Regions from separate parts of the Homo sapiens genome. Here region 1 is linked to region 2. A link means that fine-mapping ties the variant in region 2 to the expression of a gene that starts in the linked region. Tissue or cell type: hippocampus. Region 2 holds a variant in brackets; the other region holds the start of a gene. All regions are shown on one strand. Distances are between the middles of the regions. Region 1 holds the start of BAAT (bile acid-CoA:amino acid N-acyltransferase). Region 2 has its middle 28 kb from the start of BAAT.

Region 1 (2,922 bases), 28 kb before region 2:
CTTGTTGAACATGCCGTGTACATTTGAAGTTGTTGAGGCGATTAGGGTAAGGTCATTATAGTGTTCAAATCTATGCCTTTACTGATTTTTTTCAAGTTTTCTACCAATTGTTAAAAGGGATTTAAACACCTTCACTCATGGTTATGGAATTGTTATTTTTCCTATTTCTCCTTTTAATTCTGTCAATTTTTGCCACATAAATCTTGAAATCCATTATTCGGATTTATGGTTTTTATGATCTTGTCATATAGATATATGATATATATATATTTTATAATCTTAGTCATTACTACTTTAGGTTTCTTATGCTTATTGTTGCATAGTATGTGTTGCGGGAAGTCAGGGACCCCAAATGGAGGGACTGGCTGGAGCCGCGGCAGAGGAACATGAATTGTGAAGATTTCATTTTAATATGGACATGTATCAGTTCCCAAAACTAATACTTTTATAATTTCTTACACCTGTCTTTACTGCAGTCTCTGAACATAAACTGTGAAGATTTCATGGACATTTATCACTTCCCAAATAATACTCTTATAATTTCTTACGCCTGTCTTATTTTAATCTCTTAATCCTCATATCTTGGTAAGCTGAGGATGTACGTCACGTCAGGACCACTGTAATTGTATCTGACTGTACAAATTGATTGCAAAACGTGTGTTTGAACAATATGAAATCAGTGCACTTTGAAAAAGAAAGAATAACCGTGATTTTAGGGAACAAGGGAAGACAACCACAAGGTCTGACTGCCTGTGGGGTCAGGCAGAATAGAGCCATATTTTTCTTCTTGCAGAGAGCTTATAAACAGACGTGTAAGTAGGAGAGATATCGCTAAATTCTTCTTGTAGCAAGGAATATTAAATATTAAGACCCTAGGAAAAGAATTGCATTCCCAGGGGGAGGTCTATAAACGGCCACTCTGGGAGTGTCTGTCTTACGCAGTTGAGATAAGGACTGAAATACACCCTGGTCTCCTGCGGTACCCTCAGGCTTATTAGGATGGGGAAAAAATCCTGCTGTGGTAAATCTGAGGTCAGACCGGTTTTCTGCTCTTGAACCCTGTTTTCTGTTGTTTAAGATGTTTATCAAGACAATACATGCACAGTGGAACATAGACCCTCATCAGTAATTCTAAGTTTGCCCTTTGCCTTGTGATCTTTGCATTGCCCTTTGCCTTGTGATCTTTATTGGCCTCAGAAGCATGTGATCTTGTTCTCCCTTTTGCCCTTTGAAGCATGTGATCTTTGTGACCTACTCCCTGTTCATACACCCCCTCCCCTTTTGAAATCCTTAATAAAAACTTGCTGGTTTTGTGGCTCGGGGCCTCACGGTCCTGCTGATATGTGACATCACCCCCGGAGGCCCAGCTGTAAATTCCTCTCTTTGTACTCTTTCTCTTTATTTCTCAGACCAGCCGACACTTAGGGAAAATAGAACCTACGCTGAAATTTTGGGGGCAGGTTCTCTTGCTAGGTATGTATTTTTTTCATTTACTTACTTCCATTCTTTTAATGTAATTTTTCACCACAATCCAGACTCTCAGTAATCCTTTCCTTGCTTTTGTTTAAAGATTTACTCCAAAAATGTGGCCTATAGTTTTAGTTCAGCAAATACAAATTTGAAAGATTTATTTATGTGTATTTATGACTAGTTTCTAACGACATTATGTTTATAAGATTCATCCAGGTTATTGCATGTAGTTGTAATTCATTTATTTTTATTCTCTAGAAGAAGAATTGCTGGGTCAAAAGTTATTCATATTGTCACATTTATTAGACAATGTCCAATTGCTTTCCAAAGTGGTGGTACCAATTTATATTCCCTTAGTAGGGCTTGAGTCTGAGTGATTCACTTCCTAACCAACTCTTATTTTTGGAATTTTTAATTGTTGCCAACCTTTTAGGTATGAAATACACACCATGATTTTAATTTGCATTTCTTTGATAATGAGATTAAGCCTTTTCCCATAAGCTTATGATTGTGTCCTATTGTCTGTTAAGTACCTGTTTAAGACTTTTTCTCATATTCACCTGAGATTTTTAGACATTACTTTTTTAGGAATATTTTATGTATCCCAGTTAATAATTCTTAATCAGTTGTATCTGTAGCATAAGTCTTGCAAGGTAGTAGCTTAATAGTTTTCAAGTTTTTTATGGAGTATTTGGCTGATCAGACTTCCTTAAAATTAAGTTGAATTTAAGTTTCCTTTAAGTTTGCACTTTTTAAATGCTCTATCACCTCAAAAAAGATCCAGTACTTTTATGGAGATAGTCCTTTTATTGTCATGTAAAATCCTACTAACACTCCGTTCTGTAGCTATTTCAAGAAACCATGTGAATTAGTTGAGGAGGATTAGTAGGAGATTTGGTCCTCCCCAAATTCTGAAAGTGGGGCTTGAGTATTTTATTACTCATTACTGTGATCACATTTGTAGTTTTCATCTTTTGTTGTCTCAGGAAAGAAACCATTTGCAAATGCAGAGCCCTCCAGAAGTTACCTTGAGTATTTTATTGCAGAAGAAAAATATGCCCTAATGGTGCCAATAGGGGTCAAACAACTTCTATAAAGAAAATTATTAAAATAATGTGAGTAAAATGTAGTGGCAATCCCTAAGAGGGACGGATTTAGAGAGAACAGAAAATGAAGAGGGAAAATAGTGATACATTTATTGGGTTCAATAACTGTTAAAAATTAATAGGAAACTAGAGCAAGAGGTATGTGGTGACCTAGCACTTAAGTTAGCTCTGTTATACTTCCAAAGGCATATTTGAGGTTTTGGCCTTCTGGGCAAGTTTTGGTAGGGTGTCTGTCATTTTCCCTCTACTGCTGGAAAAGAAGGCTCAAGAGGAAGAATCCAGGTACTTTGTATTTTAATCAGGACTATTTATTTGGGCCGATTGGAAATAAGTTAAAATCTCTGCT
Region 2 (2,922 bases):
AGAGTCCCTACTGGGGCACTGGCTAGTGGAGCTGTGAGAAGAGGGCCACCGTCCTCCACATCCCAGAGTGGTAGATCCACTGACAGCCTGCACTGTAGGCCTGGAAAAGACTCAGGACACTCCACAACTGCCTGTGAAAGCAGCCATGAGGGAGGCTGTACCCTGCAAAGCTATAGCGGCAGTGCTGCCCAAGACCATGGGAACCCACCTCTTGCATCAGTGTGACCCAGACGTAAGACATGGAGTCAAAGGAGATCATTTTGGAACTTTAAGATTTGACTACCCTGCTGGATTTTGGACTTTCATGGGGCCTGTAGCACCTTTGTTTTGGCCAATTTCTCCCATTTGGAATAGCTATATTTACCCAATGCCTGTACCCCCATTGTATCTAGGAAATAACTAGCTTGCTTTTGATTTTACAGGTTTGTAGGCAGAAGGGACTTGCCTTGTCTCAGATGAGACTTTGGACTTGGACTTTTGGGTTAATGCTGAAATGAGTTGAGCCTTTGGGGGATTGTTGGGAAGGCATGATTGGTTTTGAAATGTGAAGATAAAAGATTTGGGAGGGACCAGGGGCAGAATGATATAGTTTGGCTCTGTGTACTCAACCAAATATCATCTTGTAGCTCCCATAATTCCCATGTGTGTGGGAGGGACCTGATGGGAGATGATTGAATTATGGAGGCAGGTCTTTCCCATGCTGTTCTCATGATAGTAAATAAGTCTCACGAGGTCTGACCGTATTATAAGGGGGAGTTTCCCTGCACAAGCTCTCTTAGCCTGCCGCCATCCATGTAAGATGTGACTTGCTCCCCTTGCCTTCCATCATGATTGTGAGGCCTCCCAGCCATGTAGAATTGTGAGTCCAATTAAACCTTTTTCTTTTGTTAAGAAAAAAAAGTTTTAGAGATAGGGTCTTACTATGTTGCCCAGTCTGGTCTCAAACTCCTGGCTTCAAGCAATCCTTCTGCCTCAGCCTCCCAAGTAACTGGGATTAGAGACATAAGTCACTGTGCCTGGATTTTCATTTTAAATATTTATAATATTGTATGTAGGTTTTCATTTTTTGCTCTTGCTGTAGGTCCCACAAATGTGAGGGATAGGCTTGTACATCACATATGCCCATTACTATGATCTTAATATTAATGCCCCCAAAATTTATATGTTTAAAAACCTAATCCCCAAGGTGATGACATTAAGAGGTGGGGCCTTTTTGGAAGTGATTAAGCCATATGGGCAAAGCCCTCATTGGGATCAGTGCCCTTATGAAAGAGGTTGAAGACAATCTGCTGAGCTTGCATGTGTGGGGGTGGGGCCCTGTGGCTTCCCCCTGCACCTCCAGGCCACTGAGGTCTGCATCTGCCCTCTGGAGTTCAACCCTCACTTAGTGGCACAGTATGATACCCTAGGAGTGACC[G/A]GTGCTCCTGGAGGCAGCTGATACATACCTTGCACCTGACTGGGGTGCCTAAAGGGCCAGTTGAGGGATATGAGGAGGATGAACAGTTTCTGAGGAAGATGTACCATGTGCTGCTGGAGGTGGATGTGTTGGAGGGCACCCTGCAGTGCCCAGAGTCTAGACGTGTGTTCTGCCTCAGTCGCAGGGTTCCCAATATGCTGCTGAATGATGAGGAAACTGAGAGTTGATTGTGCCAAGTGCCAGTTTTCCTTCTCATGATCGTGTGAATTTTTGTTGATGTATATCCTGTTTCCTAATTCTGCTACATGTATCCCCAACCCTTGGCCCAATGGCACACCAAACACACCATATTCTTGAGCTCGATAGTATATGTTTTTTCTCATTAAAGTTTCAAACAAAAAAAAAGTAAATAAAAAAATAAAAATAAAAAAGAGGTTGAAGGGAGGTGCCTTGCCGCCTTCACCATGTGAGGATGCAGAAACAAGATGCTATCTATGGAGCCGAGAGTAGCCCTTACCAGAGACCATATCTGCTAGTTCCTTGATCTTAGACCTCCCAGGCTCCAGAACTGTGAGAAATACATTTCTATCGTAAATTACCCCGTCTAAGGCATTTCATTATAGCAGCAGAGACCAACAAAGACAGAAATAGGCACAGAGAGATAGGGTGTGTTAATAACAAAACCTAAAAATGGGAAAGCAGCTTTGGAACTGCATAATAAATAAAGGATGGAAAGAGTTTACAGGTCCACTGCCATGAAAGGAGCCTTAGGGGCAACTCAGGTGAGGGTTCAGAAGAAGGTGAGGTTGAAGAAGCTGTAGAAATAGCCTCCATCTTCTTAGAGATTACCTAAGTGGTTGTGATCAAAATGTTGATAATACAGAAATACAGATGGTAAAGGCCATTCTGATGAAGTCTCAGACAAAAATGAAGGACACGTTATTGGCAACTGAGGACTAGATGATCTCTGTTACAAAGGGGCAAAAGAACTTGGCCAAATCATGTTCATGTTCTAGAAGAAATCTCTAAGCAAAATGTTGAGGATTTTGACTACTTATAATAAAATGTGGAAGCAGAACTTAAAGATTTGGAAAATTCTCAGCCTGGTCATATTGTATAGAGTGGAAAGCTGTGTTCAAGAGAGAACACCAAGGGTGTGGCTAAGTAACCGTTTGATAAGGAGATTAGTACGGTGAGGCAGAAATCAGGTGCTATTTATCAAGATAATGAAAGAATGACACCAAAGGCCTTTCAGTGTTTATTTGTGCTGTCCTTCCTATCATAGGCACAGACTGCCAAGGCTGGGGGCAACATATCTGTATCAAAAGAGGAAGCTTGGAAACCGGTAGGACCTTGACGCCAGGTGGCCTCAAATCTCCACTTCCTGCATTCTGCTGCAATGCTCCTCACCTGCCCCAGGTATGGTTCACGCAGGCCCATGTGCAGTTTGGGCCACTCTCTGGAAGGCAATATAGTAAATCTTGGTGGTGTCTGTGCAGTGCTAT

Evidence for each region. PIP is the estimated chance that this variant, and not a neighbour inherited with it, causes the effect.
Region 1: BAAT starts here. The variant in region 2 is the best candidate, but not a certain one, in a credible set for the expression of BAAT in hippocampus (GTEx, PIP 0.52).

Annotation. Positions count from the first base shown.
Region 1 is chr9:101,383,406-101,386,327 of GRCh38, reverse strand. It overlaps BAAT (bile acid-CoA:amino acid N-acyltransferase), which reads left to right and starts at 1,322. Exons shown (of 4, transcript NM_001701.4): 1 at 1,322-1,473.
Region 2 is chr9:101,355,188-101,358,109 of GRCh38, reverse strand. It overlaps the pseudogene TRMT112P4. Among named protein-coding and RNA genes, the nearest start is that of BAAT, 28 kb to the left of the region's middle. The variant G/A (reference allele first, on the strand shown) is at 1,418.